Linked DNA regions of Homo sapiens. The protein of the gene in region 6 interacts with the protein of the main gene of each other region in a pairwise test. Each region holds a gene or a part of one and is shown on either strand. Other genes may lie near its edges. The genes, in order: GMCL1, KLHL7, UBXN7, KLHL2, KLHL5, CUL3 and ZMAT4.

Region 1 (4,428 bases), about 150 Mb from region 6:
AAATGTGAAAACAAATATTTGTTTTAATTTTCATTTCTTTTTGTTTGTTTGTTTTGAGACAGAGTCTTGCTCTGTCGCCCAGGCTGGAGTGCACTAATTTTTAGTAGAGACAGGATTTCACCATGTTAGCCAGGCTGGTCTTGAACTTCTGGCCTCAAGTAATCCACCTGCCTTGGCCTCCCAAAGTGCTGGGATTACAGGTGTGAGCCACCGCGCCTGGCCCTTAATTTTCAATTTTCATTTCTTTGGTTACTGTATTGTTGGGTTTTTTTATGCTTATTGAACGTATCATCTCATGTAAACTGACAGCTTATATTGTTCCTGTTTAATTTTTTATTAAAATTTCATTTTTTTCTTGCTAATTTTTAACAGCTTTTATATATTAAAAATACATTTGTGATACTCTATAGTTTTTACTTTTTTTTTTTTTTCCGAGACAGGTTGTCACTCTGTCACTCAGGCTGGAGTGCAATGGTACAATCTTGGCTCACTGCAGCTTCCACCTCCTGGGCCCAACCTTTCCACGCACCTCAGCCTCACAAGTAGCTGAGACTACAGGCTCGCACCACCATGCCCAGCTAACTTTTTTGTATTTTTTTATAGAGACGAGGTTTTGCCACGTTGCCTGGGCTTGTCTGGAATTCCTAGGCTCAAGTGATCCACCTGCCTCCGCCTCCCAAAGTGCTGGGATTACAGGCATGAGCCACCAGGCCCAAACAGTTTTTACATTTTTGTCATTTGTCTTTTCAACCTTCAAAACAATCTATCTTTTTCTTTTATGATTTCTTTTTTTTGGTGTTATCCTTAGGCCTCCATCTTACTAGGATTATATAAATAGTCATCTATATATTCTTCTGTTCTTTTTATGGCTTAATTTTTTACTTTGGAGTATTTGACGATATATCTGAAATGTACTGGATGTATCAATGTATTTGAAATGCCTTATTGTACATGAAATACTTATAAACTTGCTTTCATTTCTGGACTTTTTGTTTTATTGATTTCTTTGTTATGAAGACAAGGCATTGTTTTAATTAGGCTAACTTTAAAATGCATTTTAATATTTAGTTACGCAAAACCACCTTCATTTTTCTTTTTTTCAAAAATCTCTCAGTTCTTTGTGCATGATTATTCTCCTGTATGGGATGTAGGATCATTTTATCAAGTTTCCTTGCAAAAATTCCTATGGGGATTTTAATTTATATGATTAAATATGTAGAGTAGTTTGTGGACCATTGATGTCTTCCTTTCTGGAATATGGTATTTTCTACATTTACGTAGGTCTTCCCTTATGTCTGTCTCTAAAATTTGTAGTTTTTCCCATATTGTTCCTGTGTATTTCCTGGAAGTATAACACTTAGTATTTTACATTTCTTTTTTTTTTTTTGAAACGGAGTCTTGTTCTGTCGCCAGGCTGGAATGCAGTGGCGTGATCTCAGCTCACTGCAACCTCCACCTCCCGGGTTCAAGCGATTCCCCTGCCTCAGCCTCCCAAGTAGCTGGGATTATAGGCACATGCCACCACGCCCAGCTTTTTTGTATTTTAGTAGAGACAGGGTTTCACTCTGTTGGCCAAGATGGTCTCGATCTCCTGACCTCGTGATCCGCCCACCTCAGGCTCCCAAAGTGCTGGGGTTACAGGTGTAAGCCACCGCACCCAGCCAGTATTTTACATTTCAGTTGCTAATATGAAATGAATCATTTGTTCTAATAGTTTTTGATAATGTAAGAAAGTTAGTGATTTTTGTATATTTATTTTGTAACTGTCCATCTTATAAGACCATGCTAAATGGATTTTCACTATAGAAGGTTCCGTCAGACAGCAATGTGTAGGAAGGATTAAAGATATGATAATGGCAATAAAACAATTTATGATTATATAGCTATAATTCAGATTAAAAGTGATAAGAACCTTAAAGAATGTAGCAATGAAGAGGAAAATATTGATGGGTTCTGGAAATAAAGTGGTGCAATTGAGAATTTGATTCTTAATTGTGTGTGTGCATGAGGAAATGTCAGATGGTTTTCTGATTTGAGCAATTTAATTTACAGTAGTGGTTTTACCTGAGATTTGAATTATAGGAAGGAAAATGAACATGACATAGTGTTGGTGATGGTGAAGAGATGATGAATTCTGTTTAGGGCATGTTTAATTTGAGAGCATCAAGGTGAAAATTTGATAGGCTGGTGAATAATGGATTTGGAGTTTACAAGTAATGCCTGAACTAGAAATAATAATTGGATGAGATAATGTACAGGAAATGTGTAGAGAATATGACAGGATAGAACCCTAGGGACCACTGGTATTTAAGAGATGGACAAAAAAGGTAACCTGGTGAGACATTGAAAAGCTGGGATGGAGAATCAAAGCCAAATTGCAGGCTTGGCGTGGTAGCTCATGCCTGTAATCCCAGCACTTTGGGAGACCAAGGCCAGAGGATTGCTTGAGACCAGGAGTTCAAGACCAGCCCTGGCAACTTAGCAAAACCCTATCTATACAAAAAATTGAAAAATTAGCCGGGCGTGGTGGCATGTGCCTGTGGTACCACCTACTTGGAAGCTGAGGCAGGAAGATCACTTGAGCCTGGGAGGCTGAGGCTGCAATGAGCCATGATCATGCCACCGCACTCCAGCCTGGGTGACAGAGTCAGACCCTGTCTCAAAACAAAAACAGACAGACAAAAAACACTACCAACAACAACAAATACCCAGAAATTTATTTAATTGTCTGGAAGTAGAAATGGGGACCTAGGAAGTTGCTGCTGCTCTGCTGCTGCTATATGTGGGCTCCACAGATTCCATCCACAATGGAATAAGGAAAATAGAACTTTGCTATAAAGGTACTTCAATGCAAATGTAGATGCAGATTGAACCTTTAGGTGAAACAACAGATTTGATGAAGCTCGGATCGACCTATCCTGTTTGGGAATGGAGAGTGGGGATTAATACAATTTAATATTCAAAAATTGGTGTATCCATTCAGCCAAGTGATATCCACGTGCCTTCCTTCTTTCTCCAGAGTTGGCCCTTTGACCTACCCTTCCCTGCCTCAATCTTAACTGTATTCAAATACTAGAAGGCTAATCTTCCTCAGAGCCTTTTAGTTATGGAACAGAATCTTGATTTTTATCATCAGATATACATATCATCAAAACATTTGTCCTCAACAAATTTGGTAAATGTGCCTTCACCCAGATTATTGATATAAATTTTGACTAGTTCAGGATGTCTCAAGCATCTGAAGACCAACCATGCTTTGGCATAATTCCTCTCTGGTGACACTTGTTAGCACAGTCTAGGTGATGGCCTCCCCTGATTTTGTTCACTGATGTCTTTTTATAATACCACTTTCCCTCGTACAGAGAGAGAGATTGTGTGTTTGTGTGTGTGTGTGTGTGTGTGTGTGTGAGACATTTGTACTCTCTACCTTCTTTATTCAAATTTATCTTCTTGTTCCCTCAACACAGAAGCTGTGTCTAGTGAGTCTGCTTCAGTCACACAGATATTCTAGTTTTAGTTCCTCTTCATGCAGGAATACATGTCTCAGTAAAAAATTAAAACTTTGGATTTAAACAGTGTTTAATAGTATCTTATCCAAAATAAATAAAGTGTAACTAATGCATACTATTGCAGAGAGCATATCCCAGGCATTTAAAACGTAGGAATTCTCATTTTAGTGTTTCTTCTTTTACTCTGAGGATTGATTCTATTTACCAAATGCTTCTAGTAAAGGATATATGAGGTTCCAAACAGAGATCTGTAGCATCAGGGATGTTATATTTGTGTAGTGTCAGCTCCTGTCTCTGGGAGTTCTGAGCATTCTTGTGTGTGTTGATGTAACTGAACCTGAAATTGCTTTTCCATGATAATGTATTTTATGTTTCAGGAGACAAATTACATGTTTGTCATAGGGACAGTGGGAAATGTCAATAGTAGGAACCCTGCTTTTTGATGATGATAATGACTCCCGACCTTCATCTGGGTGATTTGCTGTACCCAACGGCCATCAGTAATTGAAGCCAAGTAGCCAGGCACAGTGGCACCTGCCTGTAGTCCCAGCTACTCAGGAGGCTGAGGCGGGAGGATGAGGCAGGAAGATCTCTTGAGCCCAGGAGTTCAAGGCCAGCTTGGGCAATATAGAAAGACCCTATCTCATTTTTAAAAATAATTAATTAATTTTGTAAAAGGAAATAAATTTTTTTAAAAATTGAAGCCCAGTGAGAAGTTTATGTATTTCTAGACATTGTATCTGTTGACAAAATATGTAAGTATTTGATAGAAATTTTTGCAATAATGAAAATAACTACCATTATTGAGTACTTAATAGATAGCTGGCTTTGCAAAACCCCCTGTGTATTATCTCTTGTAATCCTCCTTTAAGTCAGGTACTCTTACTGTCCCCATCTTACAGTGAGGAAGCTGCATTTG
Region 2 (4,428 bases), on a different chromosome or scaffold from region 6:
TATGTTTATCACATTGTTTTGTGTGCCCACCACTGAGTAACCTACGGGGATATTAATTAGAGAATAACATCCTAAGCTATTAAGGCTCTATTTTCCTGGTCACCTAAAAAGCAAAATGTTCATCTTTGTCAGGAGTCAAAGTATTCTACATTAGGGGCTCTTCCTTTCCTAAGAGACCATTCCTGATGTTCTGTGATACTTTAATCCAATGAATGCCTGAAACACTGGATACGATCATAGGTTATCAGTCAGATTTTCTCGAAGGAAACTCAATAATCACACATAGTGCTTTCCTTGGTGAGATTGGGAATGGTATGAATTCCTATCTGACCCTGATTATTTTCAGAAAATAGCAGGAACGCTGTAGCTTCCTATCTCAAAAAAAGAGAGGGTCCAAGATACTATAACTTTAGGGGCATCCCCCCATGCACATACATGGAAGGGCGGCACAAGCATTCTTCGATGCTATCAAACATAGTGAAGAAACAGATGCTGTGAACAGCCCTTACTGTCAAGTACTGATAGGTGTGTATTTCTAATCATTGGGGTGAAAAGTGAGTATCCAGAGTACTTAGAAGAGATTACTCAAGTATTTCCTTATAAACATCAACAGTTTTAAAGTCCAGCTGACTACATTGGCTCAACTCAATATAGAAAATTAATAAAGAAGTCCACAAAATACCTTCTGGCTTTAGACTATCAGTAGGATAATGGCAATTTGAGCTTCATATTATCCATTGATTACTTATATCACACTATATATCTGGCAGGGAAGGGATGGAGACCTTTACATTTGAAAAAGCTTTTTTAAAAAATAAAACAACTTATTTTAGAATCTTCTTGTATTGTCTTCAATAACAGAAGGAATAGAAGACAGGGTGGTGATGGTATATCCAAATATATTTAAGTTTATTTTAGAGCCAGAAAGGACCCAAAGCAGTCATGTGCCTGCCTTTTGCCCTCCGCCCCATCTAATCAACATTCTGCAGAAACCACACAAGATTAAATTGGTAATAGTCTCAAGCCAAACATTTGTATGTGTAGTCTAATAAATTAACATATTCTTATATGTTTTTTGACTGTATCTTTGCATTGTCCTTTTCAGTTATATTTTTTTCCTTACTGAAAGCTTCCCATCCTTTTCTGCTACAGGATTATAGCTGGACAGACATCCGCTGCCCCTTTGAAAAACGAAGAGATGCAGCATGCGTGTTTTGGGACAATGTAGTATACATTTTGGGAGGCTCTCAGCTTTTCCCAATAAAGCGAATGGACTGCTATAATGTAGTGAAGGATAGCTGGTATTCGAAACTGGGTCCTCCGACACCTCGAGACAGCCTTGCTGCATGTGCTGCAGAAGGCAAAATTTATACATCTGGAGGTTCAGAAGTAGGTAAGGACTTCTTAAGTATTTTGGTTTGGGGCATATGCTTTAAAGCCAAGTATCTTGGCTTTCATATTTAAATAAACAGCTGGTATTATTTGTCCAGATACTTTCTTGGTAATTTAAATATGTGTTTGTCACATTTTAGAGCTCATCTCCCTGAAGGTTTATGTCGTTGCTTTACAAACCATTAAATTACAGAACTTTAGCTTCCTAGATTAATGGCCCATTTTTTTTATCATAATGAAGCATTAGTTGACATTATCTGAATTATAGTTCTAAATTATTTGGGCTGCATAATATTATTTGTTTTAAAGATTTCAGAGTTCAACTTATAGACTCTTTAAGAACTCGTTACTATATTCAGGCTTTTAAAATTTGTATTATATTTGCTTTCTTTTTATTAGAAAAAAGAATGCTCTTTTTCATTTGTTTTATTCTTTAAGTTTTTAATGACTGTAGTGGTATTTATGCTTATTGAGCAGAATGGGATGTGGGTGTGGATATAAAAACCTTATTGGATAGTGTGTTAGTGTCCAGTAGTGCTCTTTTTCTAAATGAATAATTTTTCTAAATGAATAGGTGCAGGCTAGATACATAATAGCTTTTGTATGCTTTCATTTTCAAGTAATTTCTTTAGCTTAAATAATGGGCTAATAAAGAAAACTAGGGAGACCGTAAATGGTTATACTTTTGGTCTGCATACTTATGTTTTTACCCTCAACTATATGTCAAATGAATACAAGAAAAATCACTATTTCCTAAATGTAACCATTTCCTCTCTTTAAAAGCATTCTTCACAGACTGTTATAATGTAGAATATTTCAAATACAATAAATCCTAAAGATGATAGACGGTAACTGTTCTGTGGTACTGCAGATAACTTCATTTCTTCAGCCTTTGCTAAGTGTGTTTTTAGCTTAAGTAGTAGTTTTTTTTTAATCTACTATATACTATATATTTTCCTATAGTGTCCACCCACTGAACCTACCAAATCAGGAATGTTTAAAAAGTTAAAAATAAGTTATTTTTGGTCATGACCATTGCTTCTTCTAGTTGTTATTTTCTGATCTTTACTTTTCACAGACCTTAGTTGCAACGCAGAATTATAAAGGTGTTGTCGTTTTTAAATCATTTGATATTAGCCCAGAATGGTGGGAGATGAGAAATAGTTTGGTAACTTCTAAAATTTTTTGTCCTTGGGAAGGAAAAAAAAAAGCACTTAAACTTTAATAGTATCATTTCTAAAATTTTTTATTGAACTCCTACAGTGTGTAGAAGTTTCAAAACATGATGAATGTATGTTTTGCCTTTAAATTGTGTAATCAAAATACATCAGAAATATACATCAATATTTTGAGAATATACTCAAGCAGGGACCAGTGTGATTTCAGGATATACCACACTAACTGAGAATAGTTAGGAAATATAATTTTGTTAATGGTGCTGTAGCTATTCCAGAATATTAAATAAGAATATGATCAGATAGTAGTTTTCATATTTTAAGGTATGGGTCTACCATCTGTAAGGAACTATTATGCTTTTCCACTTTATATAAACATTTGAAGTATGGATAATTCCCGTCATGCATAATGGGGCTTGAAGACATATATAAGGCTTCTTATTTAATTTTTCTTTTGAAATCAAATTTATTTTTCTAAAGTTTAATTACCAATAAATAAGTATTTCCAACAGATCCTTTTAAGGATGTTTTCCAGGGTCTATACAAACAGGATTATTAGCGTTTTCTTAAACTATTCCTACACTTTGTTGTTGTTGATTGAGTATGAAAATGGCCGTATGACCCTAAATTCTTCCTTCCTTAACTAATAAGATCTACAGTCAGTTCTTTCCAAACCCCCGCACACACTAAAGTTAAGCATGATGGGGCCTTTTTCTTTTACAGGAAACTCAGCTCTGTATTTATTTGAGTGCTATGATACGAGAACTGAAAGCTGGCACACAAAGCCCAGCATGCTGACCCAGCGCTGCAGCCATGGGATGGTGGAAGCCAATGGCCTAATCTATGTTTGTGGTGGAAGTTTAGGAAACAATGTTTCTGGGAGAGTGCTTAATTCCTGTGAAGTTTATGATCCTGCCACAGAAACGTATGTATCTATTTAAAATTTATTTTACAGTTAACTGTATTCTATAAGCTCTGTAGGAGATGTCAAAAGACCAGAGGAACCCAACAGAAGAATTTTGTCCTTGAGTGAAGAGTGTATATAAACTTTTGAGTGTGCTAGGGTCAGTGGCATATTTATGACCTGGACCTTTCCCTTACACCAGAAATGGCTTGAACTTACACCCCATGGGAACCTCTTTCTTTCTGGTTCTGCGTGCAATAAATGCCTATGAATGAGACACATCTGATTGATTCGTCAACTCATAAAATGTTTTTGTTTGAGCGGTCAGGAAATGTAGAGGAGGAGGGGGGAGTTTATGACCAGCAATAAATTTATCCTTAAGTAGAAATATTAGATATTGGCTCATGGCATTAATAAATCATGCCTCCCTAGTTCTTTTTAGGTGTAAACTTCCTAAGTACATTTAGATTCATGTTTATTAAATAAAATTATTCTTAAATCAACTGCTTTTAAAAAGGCAAAGTGTGTCAAAAAGGTAAAATGCTAAAGAAATAACTGGTTAGCCAGTTTTTCTGACCTTGTAGTTAATGATGGAACACATTCAATGTAGCCAAAGGAAATGTGCTAATCATTGAATAATGGAGAGGGCATGAGGGCACGGGTTGTGAGTAGTGACATTAAAGCTGATGAGGACATAAAACAGATGATACCCTAGTCGTACCTTTTATGGAAACATCCAAAGAGCTTTGATAAGAAAAGTCACTTGATCATATGGCTGGATTGCCCATCGTTCTTCCCTTACTAGAACAAGTTACTGGGTGAATACGTTCACTAAAATGCTATGCCAGAGTTGCATCAAAACTCTCGTGCTTAAAGTTTTATATTTAGGAAATATTGCCAAACTACAAAACATGGAAGTCTTCAACTCCAGCTACTGCTTTTTTTAAAATTAAGAAA
Region 3 (4,428 bases), on a different chromosome or scaffold from region 6:
AAGCTTAATCATTTTTAGTAGAGGCGGGGTTTCACCATGTTGGCCAGGATGGTCTCGATCTTTTGACCTCTTGATCCACCCACCTGGGCCTCCCAAAGTGCTGGGATTACAGGCATGAGCCACCCGGCCTGGCCTTCATTTTGATATTTAAAAAAATGCGTATGCTTACTTGAATCCAGAAGTGCAAGACCAGCCTGGGGAACTTAGACCCTGTCTCTTAAAAAAAGAAAGAAAAAAAAATATGTGTATATATATATTTATGTATGTATGTATGTATGTATGTATGTATGTATGTATGTATGTATGTGCCAGGTGCGGTGTCTCACGCCTGTAATCCCAGCACTTTGGGAGGCCGAGGTCAGGAGTTTGAGACCAGCCTGGCCAATGTGGTGAAACCCCATCTCTATTAAAAATACAAAAAAATAAATAAATAAAAATTAGCTGGGCGTGGTGGCGGGCGCTTGTAATCCCAGCTACTTGGGAGGCTGAGGCAGGAGAATCGCTTGAACCTGGGAAGGCTGAGGTTGCAGTGAGCCGAGTTCGTGCCACTGCACTCCAGCCTGGGCAACAAGAGTGAGACTCCATCTCAAAAACAAAACAAAACAAAACAACAAAAACGTGTGTGTGTGTATATACACACACATATATATATCTCCATTCCAATTTGGCTGTGTAAGACACAGTCCTTGCTCTTAAAGTAGAAGGGATACAGTCAGCAGAACATAATAATGAATGGCAAGCTATTATATTTCTTATGCCGTTTGACTTGTTTTTTGGTTTAACTTGTTCTTTTTCCTGTGTTTTATGACTCCATCTCACAGGAGAGCCTTATAGATGCAAGTGAAGACAGCCAGCTAGAAGCTGCCATCAGAGCCTCCTTACAAGAAACACATTTTGATTCAACACAGACAAAACAGGATAGCCGCTCAGATGAAGAATCTGAATCTGAACTTTTTTCTGGCAGTGAGGAGTTCATATCCGTTTGTGGCTCTGATGAAGAAGAAGAGGTAGAGAATCTTGCCAAGTCCAGAAAGTCTCCCCACAAAGATTTGGGGCATAGAAAAGAGGAGAATAGAAGGCCGCTGACTGAGCCACCAGTCAGAACTGATCCTGGAACAGCCACAAACCACCAAGGATTGCCAGCTGTGGATTCAGAGATACTGGAGATGCCACCTGAAAAAGCAGATGGAGTAGTGGAGGGGATAGATGTAAATGGTAAGTTACATTTAGACATACTTTACTTCAAACTTAGATATTGGGGCCGGGCGTGGTGGATCACTGAGGTTAGGAGTTCCAAGACCAGCCTCGCCAACATGGCAAAACCCTGTCTCTACTAAAAATACAAAACTTAGCCAGGTGTGGTGGCACGTGCCTATAGTCCCAGCTACTTGGGAGGCTGAGGCAGGAGAGTGGCTTGAACCAGGGAGGCGGAGGTTGCAGTGAGCTGAGATCACGCCACTGCACTCCAGCAAAACACTTGAGTAATTGCTGAATGGCTGTATTTATTTACATATTTATTTAAACTAATATTCTGTCTTAAACTCCTGTATCCCGTTTTTTTTTTTTTTTTAAACCCTTCCTTTAGGACCAAAAGCACAGCTGATGTTGCGGTATCCAGATGGAAAAAGGGAACAGATCACTCTTCCAGAGCAAGCTAAACTGCTAGTAAGTACAGGCTTGCTTTGGTTCAGTTCCGACCACTGCAATAAGACGAGTCCCAAATTGTTTGGTTTCCTGGTGCATATAAAAGTTATGTTTACATTATTCCATAGTCTATTAAGTGTGCAGTAGCTTTATGTCTAAAAAAAAGCACATAACTTAATTAAAAAAAGCTTTTGCTAAAAAGTGCTAATGATCCCCTGAATCTTCAGTGAGTCATCTTTTTGTTGGTGGAGGGTCTTGATATTGATGGCTACTGACTGATTGGGGTGATGGGTACTGTGGCAGTTTCTGAAAATGTGACAGCAGTGAAGTTGCTGCATCAGTTGCTTCCTTCGACAAAAAATTTCTCTGTAGCATGTGCTGCCGTTTGATAGTATTTTACCCACAGTAGAACTTCTTTCAAAACTGGAGTCAGTCTTCTCAGAATTTGCCGCAATTTTATCCACCAAGTTTATGCAATATTCTAAATCCTTTGTTGTCATTTCAACAGTGTTAAAAGCATCTTCAGCAGAAGTAGATTCCATCTCCAGAAATCACTTTCTTTGCTCATCCATAAGAAGCAACCCCCCTCCCTTTAATGTTTGATCATGAGATTGCAGCAATTCAGTCATATCGCCATCCTCCACTTCTAATTCTAGTTCTCTTGCAGTTTTTACCCCACTTGCAGTGACTTCCTCCAGTGAATTCTTAAACCCCTCAAAGTCATCCATGAGGGTTGGAATCAACCTCTTCCAAAGCCCTGTTCATGTTGATATTTTGACTTCCTATGAGTTGTGAATGTTCTTAATGGTATTTAGACTGCTGAATCCTTTCCAGAAGATTTTCAGTTTACTTTGCCCAGATTCATCAAAGGAATCTGTATTTATGCCCAGGCTGGTGTGCAGTGGTCATAGCTCACTGTAACCTTGACTCCCCGCCCCGGCTCAAGTGATCCTCCTGCCTCACCCTCCTGAGTAGATCACCACACCCAATTAATTTTCTTTTTTTTAGAGATGGTTTCTTGCTGTGTTGCCAGGTCTTGTCTCAAACTCTTGGACTCAAGTAATCCTCTCACCGCAGCCTCCCAAAGTGTTGAGATTTGGCTCCGTGCCTGGCCAAAATGTGTTTCTTAAATAAGATTTAAAAGTTGAAATGACTCCTTGATCCATGGGCTGCAGAATGGATGTTGGGTTAGCAGACTGGAAACAGCATTCATTTTTATTTGCATTTTCGTCAGAGCTCTTACGTGACTAGGTGCGTTGTCAATGAGCAGTAATATGTTGAATCTTTTTTCTGAGCAGTAGGTCTGAACAGTGGGCTTAAAATATTTAGTAAGTTATGCTGTAAATTGATGTGCTGTCTTTCCAGGTTTTGTTGTTGCAGTTACAGAACACAGACAGAGTAGATTTAACATAATTTTTAAGGGACCTGGGATTTTGGAATGTTAAATGAGCATTGGCTTCAACTGGAAGTCACCAGCTGCATTACCCCCTAACAAGAAAGTCAGCCTTTTTGAACCTTTGAGTGCAGCCACTGACTTCTCTCTAGCTGTGAAAGTCCTTGATGGCATCTTCTTCCAATAGAAGGCTGTTTTGTCAAACTTAAATCTGTTATTTAGTGTTGTTACCTTCGTGAACTGTCTTCACTACATCTTCTAGATAAGTTTCTGCACCTTCTGCATCAGCACTTGCTGCTTCACCTTGCACTTTGATGTTATGGAGATGGCTTCTTTCCTTCAACCTCATGAACCAACCTCTGCTAGCTTCCAGCTTTTCTTTCGTAGCTTCCTTAACTCCCTTAGCCTTCATAGGATTGAAAAGAGTTAGAACCTTGTTTTGGATTAGGCTTTGGCTTAAGGGAATGTGTGACTGGTTTGATTTTTCTGTACAGACCACTAAAACTTTCTCCTTTTCAGCAGCACAGCAGTAAGGCTGTTTTGCTTTCTTTCCTTTTTTTTTTTTTGAGACAGAGTCTTGCTCTGTCACCCAGGCTAGAGTACAATGGTGCGATCTCAGCTCACTGCAACCTCCGCCTCCCGGGTTCAAGCAGTTCTCCTTGCCTCAGCCTCCCGAGTAGCTGGGATTACAGGCGCCCACCACCACGCCCAGCTAACTTTTGTATTTTTAGTGGAGATGGGGTTTCACCATGTTGGCCAGGCTGGTCTCGAACTCCTGACCTCAGGTGATCCACCCACCTCAGCCTCTGAAAGTGCAGGTGTGAGCCACTGCTCCCGGCCTGTTTTGCTTTGTTATCATTTGTGTGTTCACTGGAGTAGCACTTTTAATTTCCTTCCAGAACTTTTCCTTGCATTCACAGCTTGGCTGTTTGGTGCCAGAGGCCTAGCTTTGTGTCTGTCTCAGCTTTCCACGTGCCTTTCTCACTAAGCTTCATCATTTTTAGCAATTGATTGATTTTGAGGATGGACACTTCCTTTCACTTGGGTACTTAGAGGCCTACACTGGTAGGTTATTAATTGGCCTACTTTCAATACTGTCATGTCTCCGGGAATAAGGAGGCCTGAATAGAGGGAGAGAGATGGGAAAACTCCCATTAGGTGGAGCAGTCAGAACATACTTCTTTATTAAGTTTGCGGTCTTGTGTGGGCGTGGTTTGTGGTGCCCAAAAGCAGAATAGTAACATCAAAGGTAACTGCTCACAGTTCATTATAATAGATAAAATAATGAACTGCAAGCATTACCAAAAGGTGACACAGAGACAGGCAGTGAGCACATGCTGTTTGAAAAATGGAGCCAATAGAGGCACTTGACACAAGGTTGCCGCAGACCT
Region 4 (4,428 bases), on a different chromosome or scaffold from region 6:
CAGTATAACATGGGTGAATATTAGATGAATTTTTAAAACAACTTCATTGAGGTATAAACTGACAGAATACATAGCGTACAGTTGACCCTTGGACAACACAGGTTTGAACTGTGTATGTCCACTTACATGTGGATTTTTTTCAATAATTATGTTGGAAAAATTTTTTTGGAGATTGGTAACAGTTTGAAAAAACTCAGATGCACTGCATAACCTAGAAATATTGAAAAAATTAAGTTTAAGATTATGAACACATAAAATATACGTAGATACTAGTCTGTTTTATCATTTACTACAAAATATCTACAAATCTGTTACAAAAAGTTAAAATTTATCAAAACATATGCACACAAACTCTTATGGGAACAAACACCCACAAACCATAGATGGTGTCATTCACAGTCCAGAGAAATGTGAACAAACCACAAAGATACAATATTAAATCATAACTGCATGAAATTAACTGTAGTATGTTACTGTACTACTATAATAATTTTATAGCCGTCTCCTGTTGCTGTATTGGTGAGCTCAGCTGTTGTGAGTATCCACTTAAAAAGCTGTGGGGGGCTAATTACCTTTGAAAGAGCAGTTTGTCTCTTCAGCGATGCGTATCTCAGTAAAAAGTTCTCTCTCATGGTTCTGCCTTATTTTTCATCATGTTTACTGCAATATCATAAACCTTGAATAATACCATGGGACCCATACAAAGTGCCACCGGTGATGGTGCTAGGAAGTGCTTCAACGAAGCAGAGAAGAGTCATGACATTACAAGAAAAAGCTGAATTGCTTGAGATATACCATGGATTGAGGTCTGCTGCTGCACTTGCCCACCATTTCAAAATAAATGAATCCAGGGTAGGGATCATTGTAAAAAGGAAAAAGGAAATTCATGAAGCCGTCCCTGCAGCCATCCCAGCAGTTTTGAAAACTTCACACTTTTTGTGAAATCCCTTTTTATCTTGTGTTGAACATGCAGCTTTTATGTGGGTGCAGGATTTTTGTTTTTGAGACAGAATCTCACTCTTGTCGCCCAGGCTGGAGTGCAACAGCGTGATCTCAGATCACTGCAACCTCCGCCTCCCAGATTCAAACGATTCTCATGCCTCAGCTTCCTGAGTAGCTGGGATTACAGGGATGTGCCACCACACCTGGCTAATTTTTAAATTTTTATTATTTTTATTATTTTTGACTTTTTGGTTTTGGTTTTTGGTGGGTGCAGGATTGCTGTAAGAAAGGCATACCTGTCAACTCTAATATGATTTGAGAAAAAGGAAAGTCATTATGTGACAACCTGAAGCAAAAGGAAGGTGAAGGATCTAAAGCTGGAGAATTTCCTCAGCCTACTCAAGCAAAGGATGACTTGATAATTTTGGAAAGGGGTTTGGCTCAAAAAATGTCAAGATAACAGGAGAACACTTCTGTCAACCAAGGGGCCAGCAGATGAGCTCCCAGATGCCATGAAGAAAGTTGTTGAGGAGAATGGATATCTGCCTGAACAAGTTTTTAATGCAGACAAATGTGCCACCAGGGACATTTATTAGGAAGATAAGCAAGCACCAGAATTTAAGGCAGAAAGGGATAAGCTAACTCTACTATTTTGTGCAAATGCAGTTGGGTTTATGATTTGGACTGCTCTTATCTAAAAAGTTGCTAACCCCCAATCCTTGAAGGGAAAATATAAATACCAGCTGCCAGTCTTTTGACTGTATAACAAGAAGGCCTAGACAAGAAATCTTTTCCCGGACTGGTTCCATCTATGCTTCAGGTTCAGGAAGTACCATGCCAGTAAGGGACTGCTTTTTATTTTGATATTGGACAGTGCCCTTGGCCACCCAGAACCCCATGAGTTCAACACCAAAGGCATAGAAGTGGTCTACTTGCCCCTAAACACAATGTATCTAATTCAGCCTCTAGATCAGTGACCATAGGAACCTTAAAGTTTCATTATACATGGCACTCTATGGAAAAAATTGCCAGTGCTATGGAAGAGAATCTCAACAGAGAAAACATGAAAGTCTGGATGGATTACACCATTGAATATATCATTGTTATAGAAAAAGCTATGAAAGTCATCAAACCCAAAACAATAAATTCCTGCTGGAAAAAAACTGTGTTCAGATGTTGTGTATGACTTCACAGGAGTTATGACAGAGCCAGTCAAAGAAATCATGAAAGAGATCATGGATGTGGCTATAAAGGTTGATGGTGAAGGGTTTCAAGGTATGGATCTTGGAGAAATTCAAGAGCTAATAGATACCAAACCAGAGAAATTAACAGAACATGACTCGACGGAGATGAGTGCTTCTTAACCACTGCCAGACAATGAAGAAGATGTAGAAGCAATGTCAGAAAACAAATTGACATTAGACAGTCTGGCAAAAGGGTTTGGTTATTCAAGACTGTTTATGACTTACTTTATGAAATGGGCCCTTCTATGATATGTGCACTGTAACTGAAGAAAGTAGTGGAAAGACGATTGGTATTATGTGGAAACATTTTTAGAGAAATGAAAAAAACAAAAAAGTCAGACAGGAATTAACAGTGTATTTCCTTAAAGTTGCACCAAGTGTGTCTGCCTCTCCTGTTTCCCCTGCCTTCCCTTCCACCTCCTCCACCTCTTCTGCCTCTGCCACCCCTGAAACAACAAGACCAACCTCTCCTCTTTCTCCTCCTCCTCAGCCTGCTCAATGTGAAGAGACAAGGATGAAGACCTTGATGATGATCCACTTCCCCTTAATGAATAGTAAATATAGTTCCTCTTCCTTATGACTTTTTAAATAACATTTCCTTTTCTGTAGCTTACTTTAAGAATACAATATATAACACATAACATGTTATGACATACATAACATATATTACATGTAAAATATGTGTTAATTGACTGTATCAGTAAGGCGTTTGGTCAACTGTAAGCTATTAGTAATTAAATTATGCGGGAGTAAAAAATTATACATGGGTTTTTGACTGCGTGGAGGGTCAGCACCCCTGACCCCCATGTCGGTTCAAGGGTCAACTGTATATTTAAACTATATAATTTTATTACTTTTGACAGAGTATATACCCATGAAACCATCACCACAATCAAGATAATGAACATATCCATCATGCTCAAAAGTTTCTGTGTTCCCTTTTGAGTATATTTTCCAAATTGTAACTACAAAGAGGAAAAGACTAGTTCTGGATTAAATAGTCTTATATTTAACTAGCCCATAACTAAACAGAGTTTTCACTGTCATTTAGATTCAAATGATAATACTACTAAAGTTTAAGAAAGAGATTCTGAAACATGATTTGTACAGTTCCTCCTGCCTTCGTATTATAATGAAGAATTGAGTGTTTTCTCAGAGATACAGAGTGCTGCCTGTGACTTCTTTTTTCTCTCTTCATTTCTTTGCTCAGGGGTCACAGTTATTGATAAACCATTATGAGCCTGAAGGACATTTTCAGCATATTTATACATGAGAAACAGCCTTCAACAAGTATTTGTGAAGTGACTGAGAATCTAGCACTTCTCCACTTGTAGCTGCACTTTAAGTCTCAGCAGAAGATACGATCGTCTGCCTTTATAGGCCTCAGATACTGAAGATTATTTTTGGTAGAAGCACCGTGTAGGCTTTTTCTGCAATGAGCAGCAGCTGACTGAATTTTCATAAGAAACTTGGACTGCAGGACTTAATCTGTAGTCTTTAGACAACAGTTGCTTTCATAAAGACTAGTTCTTATCAACCTTGAATGACTACAGATTATTTTGTGAAGGAGGATGAAGTAATGTGTGTTCTTGTAAAATTAAATTTTATCTTTATTTCTTCTAAAAATCTGTATACCAGGAACTGAAAATCTTTGAACAGATATTAAAATCTACGTAAGTATACAAACTAGTTGAGGGATACACTGTTTGCTTTTATAAAATAACTTTGATTACATGAATATAATAAATTATGTGCATATAAATGTGTGTCTATATGCTTTCCTTTAAATATGTTTGAAAAGATGTTTGAAACTTGATTATACTATTTATAATTGGCACAGTACTTTGAATTATGCCAGTACTACATTGTAAAACAGAGTTGTATTTTTTGATATTTAACAATGCTTAACACTTTAAATGCCACTTCTGAGGAATGGACCTGGTGTAACACACTTGAATATGTGTGATGCCAAACTTTTTAAAATACAATATAAATTATGCTTATTTATTATTTTCTTTAGTTTAATCTTGGTCATGTTTTGGTGTGTATTTTTAATTTTTTTCTTAAATTAACACTTTGGCATGAACATTACTGCAGGTTTTTGATGAATATAATGAATGTATGGAATTCAATTGAATTTGCATGGTCTTCGGAATTTTTTCTGTGTGTATAAATTTAGCTGCTATTAACAGAAGAGAGAACTTTCTGTGAGTAGCCATGTGTGTTGATCAGATACAGTTTT
Region 5 (3,679 bases), on a different chromosome or scaffold from region 6:
CAAAGCCAGACAAAGACCTCACAGGGAAGCTACAGACCAATATCCCTTATGAATATAGATGCAAAAAAACTTCAAAATACTAGCAGGCCAAATCCAGCAGCTTATTAAAATGATCACACAGCATGACCAAGTGAGATTTATCAAAGAAATGCAGGGATGGTTCTACATACAAATGTCAATCGATGTAATAATATACCATATTAATAGAATGAAGGGGAAAAAACAGCATGATCACCTCAATTGATAAGAAAAAGCATTTGACAAAAATCCAACACCCTTTCATGGTAAAAACACTCTGCAAACTAGGAAGAAAAGGGAACTTTCTTAACCTGATAAAGACATCCATAAAAACCCACAGCTAACAACATAATAGCAAAACATTGAAAATTTTTCCCCTAATATCATGAAAATTCCTGATTTCCCCACTGCTATTCAACATTATACTAGAAGGTCTAGCCAGAGCAATTAGGCAAGAAAAAGAAATAAAATGAATCCCAAATAGGAAGAAGTAAAACTACATTTGCAGAAAACATGGTCCTATATATTAAAAATCCTAAAGAATCCACAAAATGATTCCGGCTGATTTTAAAAATTCAGCAATGTTGCAGGTTGCAAGATCAACACACAAAAGTCTAAGAAAAACCTGAGGGGAAATTAAAACAATTTCATTTACAATAACATGAAAAAGAATAAAATACTTAGAAATAAATTTGACCAAGAAAGTGCAAGACTTGGACACTGAAAAGTACAAAACGTTGCTGAAAGAAATTAAAGAAGACCTAAATAAATGGAAGACATCCTGTGCTGGCAGGTTGGAAGACTTAACATTGTTAAGATGGCATTACTCCCAAAATTAGTCTATAGATTTAATACAATCCCCATTAAAATTCCAGTGACCCTTTTACAGAAACTGAAAAGCTGACCCTAGAATTTATATGGGATTGCAAGTTACTGAAGGTACTCAAGTCTGTTCAAAACAATCTTGAACAAGAATAAAGTTGAAGGACTCACATTTTCCAATTTCAAAATTTACTGCAAAGCTACTTCAATCAAAACAGTGTTGTGCTGGTATAAAAATATATAAAGCAATAGAGTAGAATGGAAAGTCCAGAAACAAATTACGCCAATACACTATGGTCAATTGATTTTTGACAAGGGTTCCAGGACCATTCAATGAAGAAAGAACAGTGTCTTCAACTAATAGTGCTAAGACAAGTGAATATTCACATGCAAAAGAATGAATTTGTACCTGTACTTCATACCATATATAAAAATTAATTCAAAATAGATCAAAGACCTAAATGTAAGAGCTAAAACCATAAAACTTTGAGAAGAAAATACAGGAATAAATCTTCATGACCTTGGATTTGGCAATGGTTTCTTAGATATGGCACCAAAAGCACAAGCAACAACAGCAAAAAAAAAAAAAAAAAAAAAAAATCAAAATTAAAAGCTTCTACATATCAAGGGACACTATGAAGAAAGTGAAAAGACAACCCACAGAATGGGAGAAAATATTTGTAAATCTTACATATCTGGTAAGGAACTAATACCTAGAATATATAAGGAACTCCGATGCTCGACAACAAAAAGACAAACCAATTTTAAAATGGGCAAAGGACTTAAATAGACATTTCTCTAATGAAGATATACAAATGGCCGACAAGCACATGGAAAGCACTCAACCTCATCAGTCATTATGCAAATCAGCGCCACAAGAAGATACCACTTCACACCTATTAGAATGACGAAATAGACCTAGGATCTAAACCTACAGGAAAAAAAATGAATAATAGAGAAAATAAATGTTAGAGAGGATGTGGAGAAATTGAAAACCTTCATTCGTTGTTGGTGGGAATGTTAAATGGTGTAGCCACTGTGGAAAACAGTTTGGCAGTTCCTCAATAAGTTAAAAAAAAGAATTACCATATGACCCAGCAAGTCCACTCCTGGGCATATACTGAAAAGAACTGAAAACAGGTGTTCAAGCAAAAACTTTCACGCAAATATTCATTGCAGCACTAGTCACAGTAGCCAAAAAAGAGGAAACAACCCAAATGGCCATCAGCTGATGAATGAATAAACAAATTGTGGTATCTCCACACGGCACAATAGAATATTCAGCCATAAAGAGAAATGAGGGACTGATACATGCTAAAGCATGGATGAGCCTTGAGCGCATTTTTGCCAAGTGAAAGAAGGCAGACACAAAAGGCAACGTATTGCATGAGTGCATTTATATGAAATATCCAAAATAGGCAAATCCATGGAGACAGAAAGCAGATAAATGGTTGTAAGAAGCTGAGAGAAAGGAGTGGGGAGAGATTGCTAAAAAGGAGTTTCCTTCTAGGGTGATGAAAATGTTCTGGAACTACTTATTGGGGATGATTGCACAACATGGTGAAGGTACTCAATGTCACTAATGGTAAATTTCACATACACTTTACCATAATTTTTAAAAAGCTTTATTAGCTACATTATGTTATGATACTTAAATGTCATAACAATAGCATTCTGTACGCTTCACTAGGATAAAAACTTCGGATTTATATGCATCTGGAAGAGAAATTTTTCACTGTAATTTGCAAATAAATGAATTTCTAAAAATCTAACAGAAAGGCTCTTAAATCTTAATTTCAACCTAAGAAGGGAGTGAGAAACAACGAGAACCATGAGGGGAGAGTTAACGGGGAACTTCCCCACCGTCCGGTACATGGCAGGCATTCCACAAATGTTTTCTGAAAGTTGAAATAGACATCTTTTCATGAACTCTGTAATATTTGAAATTATTGATAACTCTTACACAAAAACAAATATTCAATAAAATGATATTTAATTTCACTGTGACTAGATAATACTCATGTAATATTTTTTATTTTTTAACTGGAGTAAAAAAAATCAAATGCCATGAAAAATTACAGGCTACTTATGGCATTTTCATCATTCTGAGTCTTAAAGAACTTATATGAACGCACCACCTCTTCCATCACAGCCTCTGTCCTCATTCCTGAGATGTAGGAGAGTACCGTGTTTTTTTGTATCTTCTCCTGGGGCTGAACAACTTGCAAGCCTCTTGAAGAAATGCCGTATTGACAGATGTGGGTATTGGCATCATCGCTAGACTTCACTGCCACCCTCATTTCCCCCTAGTCCTGGGTAATTATTTGGGCTAACGAGGTATAATCTAGAAAGCAAACCCAGGGAAGCTCGGGAAGCAAATCTAGTGCCCTGGATCTTTGCCCAGGTTCAAGCTGGTTCCATTTGACCATATTTCTTTGTGGATAATAAACAATTATATTTAATTCAGGTATTTTCACATACTTTTGAGGACAGCAAAGATCACCTGGTGGCCATCAAGCAGACCATCTGGAGGCAAAACTCCTTATCTGAGGAATTCAGAAGTCATTAGACTGCCCTATTATCTAAAGCCGGCATCTTGTACTAGGCTTCTTTACCAAAAATGTATTTAATGTAAGTAACTAGAATTTTTATACATCTCCGGAATGAATGTGTGTCAGAAGTTACTGGGCAACCCTTGCTGACGTCAAGGCACCAAAATGTGTACAAATGTAATCGTTTACCATGACCTGTGTAACGAATGTGGTCAAAATTACCCTTACACTCCTGCTTTAAGGTCCATAAATACCTTGTTATTACTCCATTTTCACACTGCTATAAA
Region 6 (4,428 bases):
CTCTCTTGAGGCCAGGAGTTTGAAATTAGCCTTGTTAACTTAGTGAGACTCCATCTCTACAAAAAAAAAGAAAAAAGAAAAAAATTAGTGGCACACAGTGGTATACACCTGTTGTCCCAGAAGCTGAGGCAGAGGATCACTTGAGCTCAGGAGTTCAAGGCTGCAGTGAGCTGTGATCGCGTGACTGCACTCTATGCTGGGCGACAGAGCAAGACCTTGTCTCAAAAAAACTGAACAACTGTCCAGGTATGGTGGCTCATGCCTGTAATCTCAGCACTTTGGGAGGCCGAGGTGGGCAGACCACCTGAGGTTGGGAGTTTGAGACCAGCCTGACCAACTTGGTGAAACCCCATCTCTACTAAAAATACAAAATTAGCTGGGCATGGTGGTGGATGCCTGTAATCCCAGCTACTCAGGAGGCTGAGGCAGGAGAATCACTTGAACCCAGGAGGCGGAGGTTGCAGTGAGCCAAGATGACGCCACTGCACTCCAGCTGGGGCAACAATAGCGAAACTCCGTCTCAAAAAAAAAAAAAAAACTGAACAACTACACAGCTGTAGTTGGTAAACAGTCATTTTTATGACTGAGAGTTAGGCATGCTGAAGATAAAGAACTAGAAAACTTTCTAGTAGAGAGTGTTGTTTGCTCTCATCTGGTTCTGAAGGTTATATGTCAAACAATAATTGGATGCCAAGAATATTAAGGCATAGATAGAGTAGATCTCATCTCAGAAAATGGTTGGTGTAGCTCAATTTCAAGCCTTTGTGATATATGATATCTCTGGAACCTGAGGAGCTCACGACAGCATAGAAAATCAACTGAAGCATAAAACATGCTCACATCTGAATTGGTCTCTTTTGACTTCATTTTGGAATTTGTGACACCAAAGGGAAAAGCAACATGTCGTCACAGGTTTTACAGGCAGTAGCTGCAATAAGGGAACAAAATCACTAAGGTTGCACAGAATAGAAAAGTCTATTAATTTATGCATTCATTTGGTCTTCCGTTTTTCAAATATATTAATACAACCTGCCACAGAATCCTTTTGCCCTTATTTAAAAGTAAGGGCAGCCAGGCACAGTGGCTCACGCTTGTAATCCCAGCACTTTGGGAGGCAAAGGCGGCGGATCACCTGAGGTTGGGAGTTCAAGACCAGCCTGACCAATATGGAGGAAACCCATCTCTACTAAAAATACAAAATTAGCCGGGTGTGGTGGTGCATGTCTAATCCCAGCTACTCGGGAGGCTGAGGCAGGAGAATTGCTTGAACCCGGGAAGCAGAGGTTGCGGTGAGCCGAGATGGCGCCATTGCGCTCCAGCCTGGGCAACGAGTGAAACTCCGTCTCAAAAGAAAAAAAAAATAGAAATAAAAAAATAAAGTAAGGGCAATGGCCTTTTTACTGTTTGGATTATAACAAATTATTGCCTTTTGTTTGCACAGTTGAGGCTTTCAGTGAGCTTAAATGAAAAATTCCGTCTTTTGGCTGTGTAAGTTTTTGCCTGCATATGCAAAGGCTTCATAAAATAATCTCTGTGACTAAAATTTCATTTCATCTGTTCTCAATCATCCCTTAACCCAGCGCTATATTACCTTATGCCTCCAATTCAGTGGTAGCCCTCTACGGAATAGAATTCCACTCCAACCCCTCATTCATGATGCACTAAATGAGAATGTAAGAATGATGCTACTGTGTGAAGTAGGAGACACTTTCTCAAACCGTATCCCTTTTTTTGATGTATGTCAACCAGATATCTATGTTTTCAAACAATAGTGTTTTTAAGCTGTAAATGAACCGTAGTACTGCTTTTGTAGAACTAAAATTGTATAATTGTTACATCATCTTAATTTTGCAGCTAACAGAACAAGAAGTAGAAACAATATTGGATAAAGCAATGGTCCTTTTTAGGTTTATGCAAGAAAAAGATGTATTTGAACGTTATTATAAACAACACTTGGCAAGGAGACTTCTCACAAATAAAAGTGTTTCTGATGACTCTGAAAAAAACATGATATCTAAGTTAAAGGTAAGGTGTGTTTTAGATGAAATAGAGTGCACCTAACTGAGGTTTATTATGATTGTGTACTGACAACGTGATTGGAAATTAATTTGGTAGATTATTAAGTGTTTATTTCTAGAAATAAAGGTAGATTGTTTTGGAGAAGAACACAGACTACACTAACATTTGTTCAAGTTCAGGGACATTCAGAGTTTGCTGGAATTTCTGTTGGTGTGTCAGGATACATTCATGGAGGCCTGGAAGGGAGGATTAGTAAAAGGGAAACAATAAAGAGGCTATGCTGTGTAGTTCTTTTTCACAAAGTGTGGTCCATAGAATACTTGCACGTGAATCACCTGAGATGCTAGTTAAAAACAGTTCTGGGCCCTGCCTTTCATGGGGGTATATTGGAATCTCTGAAAGAATCTGGGAATTTGCATTTTAAAATCCTAAAGTTTGATAACCACAGGCACAGAGCAACTGTTGGAAAAATTTACAGGAAGATTATCAGGGATAGCAATAACATGAAATAATTTATTTCTTTCTGTACTTTCTCATAGAAACATCTACCATTTATTTGTGTATATTTGTGTTTTTCCTCCACAGACTGAATGTGGATGTCAGTTCACGTCAAAACTGGAAGGAATGTTTAGGGATATGAGCATCTCAAACACAACGATGGATGAATTCAGGCAACATCTACAGGCAACTGGTGTAAGATTCTGCGTTAATTTCTACTTAGATATTCATGTAAAGTCTTTTGTAATGGGTATATTTTCATCCACTTAGCAGATGACAGTTGTTTCTTTAAATGTCATTAGTGACAACATGTGTTTTATCTGTGAGTACTTAATTTTCCTTCACATTGCCTCTTATTCTGTGTTTATGTTAAAACTTTTTATTCTTTTAAAATTTAGTTGTTTCTTCCCACTTGAAGGAATACACTGACAATTTAATAAAGAGAATTATTCTGTTGTTAATAAAGATAATACAAATCTATTATAAATTGTGGAAAGAGTACTGGGCTTAACACAAGTTTACTGAGTTTCAGTACTCTTCTTTTCACTTTACCCCAAGATTGTGTCATCTTGGGATAGTCACCTGACCTTCCTATACCTCACTACTATTATTCTCCTCTGTAAGTTTAGCTTAAATGGGACTTACATCCTAAGGGTGCGTAGCAGGTGAAGTGAGACTATAAAAACACAGAAATTAATGTATTATAAATGTGTTTGGTATAACTCCCCAAAGGTGGTGAGCTGGAACTTCTTTAGCTTTGGAGTCTGATGGGAGTTTTATGAGCATTTAATGAAATTCAGAATTTAGTTTCATTTTTTACTCTGATTTTCAACTTAACCTTAAGTTTAGAGAATTGTACAGTTTTTAAATTTTTAAAATCACCGTGTACCACTCTATGGTTAAAATGTGTCACAACCATTTAACAGATTTGTGAGTCTTTTCCTTTGGTATCTAAATATGAGATCATCACTTCTACTGGCCTTATAGTCTCGCAAACCAGATACGTGAAAATACGTAATTCTGTAGAATAACCATTCATTTCTATGAAAACATTCTGACTCTAATGTAAATAGTTGTATGATTTGCTTTATAAATATCAGTGTTTACAGTGGAGAAGAGCTGAGAGGAGGAAAGATGCAAGTCCATGACAGAAATTTCGGGTGGACAGGAAATAGTGGTGTAATTATCCTGGATTTTTATTTTTAGATTGTTTAGGAATTTATAGTTAAATCTAATATATTGATATATTTTCTTGTATTTTTTTGTTTGCTCTAGTAAGTTTTTAAATTTTTTTCTTCCACTAATCTTACACATTGAAAGCTATAGGGAAGATTGGGCTAGATCCCATGCATATTGATATGGGATGGATGGACTGTCCACTTTGTGACCCTCCCTTCCCCTAACCAACTTGCGAATGTATAAACAGTTCTCCACCTCCCCCAGTACACCATCTAAGAGTCTCCTCTATGATCCTCTCTTCTGTGCATCATCCAAGTTTATTTTCAGTTTCCTTAAAGTTAAGTAATCATTTAGTGGATACTTGTGAAGAAATCGGAGTGTAGAATGCTTCTTGATATTCATAAACTGATTCCTCCCCTTAAAAATTTACATTACTAAATCATTGAGGTAAGATAAAAATGGAATGATGGTTTATAACACATCCTGAATATCAATAATAGAAATAATATTTAATCTTTAAGAGTTTTTGTTGTGCCTTATTGTTGTTTACTTAAAAATTTAATTTGTTTAAAGGAAGAAAATAATTGTGACAGTTGATACTAGCATAGAAGTAGTTATTCATTGTACAGATATTTGTAGAGCACCTGCTCTGTAGCACTGGATCTATAGTGTTATAGCACTGGATCTGTATGCAGAGGTTGTTAGAATGTGAGCTACATGCTAAAACGTAAA
Region 7 (4,428 bases), on a different chromosome or scaffold from region 6:
CTTTCTGTAACAACTGTGTAAATATATAAAAATGAAATAAATTTTAACCTTTACTTCATACTGTACACAAAAATTAATTTCAGATACATCATAATCCTACATGTAAAAGTTAAAACTATGAAATTTGTAGAAGAAAACATACAAGAATATCTTGGTACAGGCAAAGATTTTTTTAGGTAAGACACAAAAAGCAATGATTATAAAAGAATAAAAAAGTTAAGTTAGCCTCCCAAAATTTAAAAATGCCTGCTCATTGAAGGGCTTAAGAAAATTAATAGCCAAGTCACAAACTAGGAGAAAATATTCATAATGCATATATTCAACAAAGAATGTGAATCCATAATACGTGAAAGCCTTCTACCTCATCTCAAATAAAAGGCAAAAAATAAATTTTTAAAAACAGATAAATGACATAAACAGACACTTCACAAAGGAAGATACACAAATGACCAATAAGCACATTTAAAAAGTACTTGACGGCAGGGTGTGGTGGCTCACACCTGTAATCCCAGCACTTTGGGAGGCCAAGGTGGGCAGATCATGAGGTCAAGAGATCAAGACCATCCTGACCAACATGGTGAAACCCCGTCTCTACTAAAAATACGAAAATTAGCTGGGCGTGGTGGCACTGCACCTGTAGTCTCAGCTACTTGGGAGGCTGAGGCAGGAGAATCTCTTGAACCTGGGAGGCAGAGGTTGCAGTGAGCTGAGATCATGCCACTGCACTCCAGCCTGGCAACAGAGCAAGACTCCATCTCAAAAAAAAAAAAAAAAGTACTTGACATCATTAGTCAATATGGAAATATGAATTAAAGGCATCATGAAATACCCTCCTATATGCACTAAAATGGCTAAAATTTAAAAGACTGACATGAGCAGATGTTGGTGAGGCTATGGAATTTTTATATGTTGGCTTTTTGAAGTGCAAAGTAACGCAACTATTTTAGATTTTGGCAGTTTCTTCTATAGTTAAAAATACATGCAACTTATGACCCAGCAATCCTATGCCTATTTACCAAGAGAAGTAAAACATATGTTGACCAAAAAAAAGTCTTGTGCCGTAATGTTCATGAAAGCTTTATCTAAAATAGCACCAAAATAATCCAAAGTTCATCAATGAATAGAGTGGATAGACAAACTGTGGTATTTTTGTGTATAGAATACTACTCAGTAATAAAAAAGGTACTACTTTGCTTTATATGCTATAAATGGATAAATTTCATAAACAATGTGTGATCCACAATAAGCCAGACACACAAGAAATACATATTTTATGATTCCACTTATATGGAGTTTTAGAACAAGCAAAACTAATCTATGATGAAAAAATGAGAAAAGTGGTTCTCTGGAATGGAGGGTTGGAGTTGACATGGGAATTTTCCCATGATGGAAAAGTTACGTATCTTAATAGGGCTGTGGGTTACACAGGTGTTTGCACTGTCAAAACTCATAGAACTGTAACATGTAATATCTCTGCATTTCACTATACATATAATATGCATCATTTTAAAAAATTAAAACAAAATTAGAAATAGTTTCTTATAAAAAATATTAAATCAGAATCCTTCTAGAAATGAAAATGATTGCCATGTTAAGAATGTAAGATTTCAGGTGATTTTGTTTTAGGGCATTCTCTGTTCATTCATTCATTCATTCAGAAACTATTGAGTAACTATTATGTGTCTGCCACTACTCTAGGTGTTTTGAACATATAAATGAGCAAACCAGACATAAATGCCTGCTTTTAAGATGCTAATAATCTATAAAGTAAGTAGAGAGAAAGAAAATACAAAAAAAAGTAAGTAAACAAGACAGTGTTTAAAAATGTGAGAAGTGCTATGAGAGAAAGAGAAAAAGCCTACCATCCTATTATATTGCTATATCGTGCTTCAGCTGCCTGATACCATTTTATTAAAGTCATGGATATGCCTATATTTATGGATTAGCATTTTTGCCTTTATTAATTGATTGATCATACATTAGAAGCATTCCAGGAATAGAGGGGTGTGTGTGTGGCCTGTGTGTGTGTGTTTCAAAGTGCTGGGTTACCATAGTTGCTTTATTCTTAAGCTTTTGCAATATTTAATGCTTGAATAAATATCTATCAGGATATCACCTGGAGCGTGTGGAAAGTTTGGTTTCAAGGACATTGTGCTCAATGCTAATCGCATTCCATGGGCTACTGAGTCACAGTCACATTGAGTTATCGAGTCAAAGCAGCCTTTTTGTCTTCTGTATGAAAGACAAGCTGCTCAAATGTTACAGAATTCAGACACCAAAGTCATTAAGATGTAGTTGTACATAAAAGATACAGCACTGATAATTCAAAATAGACAGGAAGAATGTGCTGTAGGAATAATTTTTCTTCAAGTCATAATAACTGGCACCAAACATAAAGTCCTATTTTTCTCCTTCACTGCCCAGCTGGGAAGGAGTCACTGAGACAACTTGTTATCTGCCAGTAACACAGGCATTGCAGTTAGGCCTTCAGCTATGGAGAGATCCTGCCTATTTTCTTTAACAAGACATAGACTGAAAACATATGAAATCCTCCATCAAAAAGCAGTAGTACCATTGACTCAAAAGCTTCTGCAATGAGCTTATCCAACATACTGAAATAGGAAGCACCAAGTTGCTTTTCTGTAGCTAGAACACATACACATAAATAAAGTGTTATTAATGTTTGCTCTTTTTTTGTTGTTTTTAATCAGGTCTTTTGGAAAAAATCAATCTCGAATCAAGCTCTATATACTTAGCCATGGATCTCCAACTTTAAATCTATGCTGCAGTATAAGATTCTTCCATGATGACTTCTTAGCTGTCTCTAGCTTGTTTCCTGACCTTTGCCCATGCGTATGTGATTCTGCTCACATGGAATGCCTTCTCACCTTCTAAAATGCCACCCACTTTTCTAGTTCCAAATCAAGTATATTCCCTTGGTGAGATCTTCTGCAACCAACATATTAAGAAGTGACCTGTCCCTCCTCTCAACTCATTGTAGCATGACCTTTTATATTACTTATTTTGTCTAGAAATGTTCCAAGTCATTTTCTGTTATAATTATCCCCCTTACAGGTTCACAGCCAGATTACGGTAATTAGAATTGTAGGCTCTGTATGCAGAACCCTGTTTAAACTGAGGTTGCCGTCTCCAAATTGATTTGCAAATGTTGTTATCTATAGCTTGCAGCCATTATGAATGACCTGCCCACAAAAGCTCATCAAACTTACACCAAATCTGAAGTATAGTATCAATAGCACCCCTTGCAGAATTATTTTTATTTTTCTGAGAAAAATGCATTTTCTCAGAAAATATAATATGCAATTTTGCTGTACTTCTATGCTGCCAACATCAAGCTGATCAAAAGTATGTAGGTGATCAAAAATGCTTAAATGGTTGCTGGTGATAAAATATTCTATTTAGTCCCACAAATTGGTTGATGGCTTCCTAAGGAATCCACAGAAGTAATCCTCACGCTATGTTTTCCAAATTCAGCAGCTTCTGTGAAACCTCACAGGAACTTCAAATGATACATGGTTTCTAGCTGTCAAGAAAACCCTGTCTGGGGCAGGGGCATGGTGCGGAGGAGACAGGTGTTGACTACATAGTGCCACACAGCACTGTCTTGCCGTGATTTCCCGGAGATTTTATTGAAGGGGCTTGGGCTTGCTTCAAGTCATTAAATTGAGTCAATTTGTTGCTTTGTTTTGGCTAAATTTATAAAAGCACAAAAGTTTAAGGTAAGATAATACTATTTGGCCTTTTTATCATCTTTTTTTTTTTTTTTTTTTTTTTTAAATTTTTGAGACAGAGTCTCACTCTGTTGCCCAGGCTGGAGTGCAATGGCAAAATCTCGGCTCACTGCAATTTCTGCCTCCTGGGTTCAAGCGATTCTCCTGCCTCAGCCTCCCAAGTAGCTGGGATTATAGGTGCGCACTGCCACACCTGGTTAATTTTTGTATTTTAATACAGACGGGGTTTCACCATATTGGCCAGGCCGGTGTTGAACTCCTGACCTCAGGCAATCTGCCCACCTCAGCCTCCCATTCAGCATCTTTTTTTTCTTTTTTAAACACTGCTACTCTACAAAAGCATTTGGTAAAGAAGGCAGTTAAAGATAAAGCAGAAGGAAAACAATCTGGTTCATGAATGTGCCTTTGGTCTGAAAAGCAGTCAATAAAAATATGAAAATAAACACTTTGAAACAAAGGAGATTATAAAAATTAAACTAAAGCAAGCCTTCTGCTCATTTCCTTTCTTGTCCATTTCTTTTGGGTGAGCCTCACTTTTTCCTTAATAATTAAAGCAAGAAGAAGAATCATTCCGATTTGTGAAAGCCGCATCTTTTCTCTGAAAGCCCAGTTTTGTGGCAGAAGTGAGAAGAGCTGCCCTTACCTCTCAGTTCCCCCATATCCAGGGTTGTCCCCA

What was found.
Region 1: the proteins of CUL3 (region 6) and GMCL1 interact in binary tests that used the Homo sapiens proteins (3 or more experiments, as listed by UniProt).
Region 2: the proteins of CUL3 (region 6) and KLHL7 interact in binary tests that used the Homo sapiens proteins (3 or more experiments, as listed by UniProt).
Region 3: the proteins of CUL3 (region 6) and UBXN7 interact in binary tests that used the Homo sapiens proteins (3 or more experiments, as listed by UniProt).
Region 4: the proteins of CUL3 (region 6) and KLHL2 interact in binary tests that used the Homo sapiens proteins (3 or more experiments, as listed by UniProt).
Region 5: the proteins of CUL3 (region 6) and KLHL5 interact in binary tests that used the Homo sapiens proteins (3 or more experiments, as listed by UniProt).
Region 7: the proteins of CUL3 (region 6) and ZMAT4 interact in binary tests that used the Homo sapiens proteins (3 or more experiments, as listed by UniProt).

What each region holds. Positions count from the first base shown.
Region 1 is NC_000002.12:69,874,327-69,878,754, forward strand, and holds part of GMCL1 (germ cell-less protein-like 1), read left to right. Parts: intron 1-4,428. UniProt on the Homo sapiens protein: Possible function in spermatogenesis. Enhances the degradation of MDM2 and increases the amount of p53 probably by modulating the nucleocytoplasmic transport.
Region 2 is NC_000007.14:23,164,546-23,168,973, forward strand, and holds part of KLHL7 (kelch-like protein 7), read left to right. Parts: intron 1-1,152; coding exon 1,153-1,393; intron 1,394-3,290; coding exon 3,291-3,492; intron 3,493-4,428. UniProt on the Homo sapiens protein: Substrate-specific adapter of a BCR (BTB-CUL3-RBX1) E3 ubiquitin ligase complex. The BCR(KLHL7) complex acts by mediating ubiquitination and subsequent degradation of substrate proteins. Probably mediates 'Lys-48'-linked ubiquitination.
Region 3 is NC_000003.12:196,359,081-196,363,508, reverse strand, and holds part of UBXN7 (UBX domain-containing protein 7), read left to right. Parts: intron 1-821; coding exon 822-1,215; intron 1,216-1,585; coding exon 1,586-1,665; intron 1,666-4,428. UniProt on the Homo sapiens protein: Ubiquitin-binding adapter that links a subset of NEDD8-associated cullin ring ligases (CRLs) to the segregase VCP/p97, to regulate turnover of their ubiquitination substrates.
Region 4 is NC_000004.12:165,318,636-165,323,063, forward strand, and holds part of KLHL2 (kelch-like protein 2), read left to right. Parts: intron 1-2,676; coding exon of another isoform or gene 2,677-2,690; exon of another isoform or gene 2,691-2,716; intron 2,717-3,396; coding exon 3,397-3,425; 3' UTR 3,426-4,428. UniProt on the Homo sapiens protein: Substrate-specific adapter of a BCR (BTB-CUL3-RBX1) E3 ubiquitin ligase complex that mediates the ubiquitination of target proteins, such as NPTXR, WNK1, WNK3 and WNK4, leading most often to their proteasomal degradation.
Region 5 is NC_000004.12:39,123,387-39,127,065, forward strand, and holds the end of KLHL5 (kelch-like protein 5), read left to right. Parts: 3' UTR 1-2,847; downstream 2,848-3,679.
Region 6 is NC_000002.12:224,501,249-224,505,676, reverse strand, and holds part of CUL3 (cullin-3), read left to right. Parts: intron 1-1,854; coding exon 1,855-2,025; intron 2,026-2,604; coding exon 2,605-2,712; intron 2,713-4,428. UniProt on the Homo sapiens protein: Core component of multiple cullin-RING-based BCR (BTB-CUL3-RBX1) E3 ubiquitin-protein ligase complexes which mediate the ubiquitination and subsequent proteasomal degradation of target proteins.
Region 7 is NC_000008.11:40,670,309-40,674,736, forward strand, and holds part of ZMAT4 (zinc finger matrin-type protein 4), read right to left. Parts: coding exon 4,396-4,428; intron 1-4,395.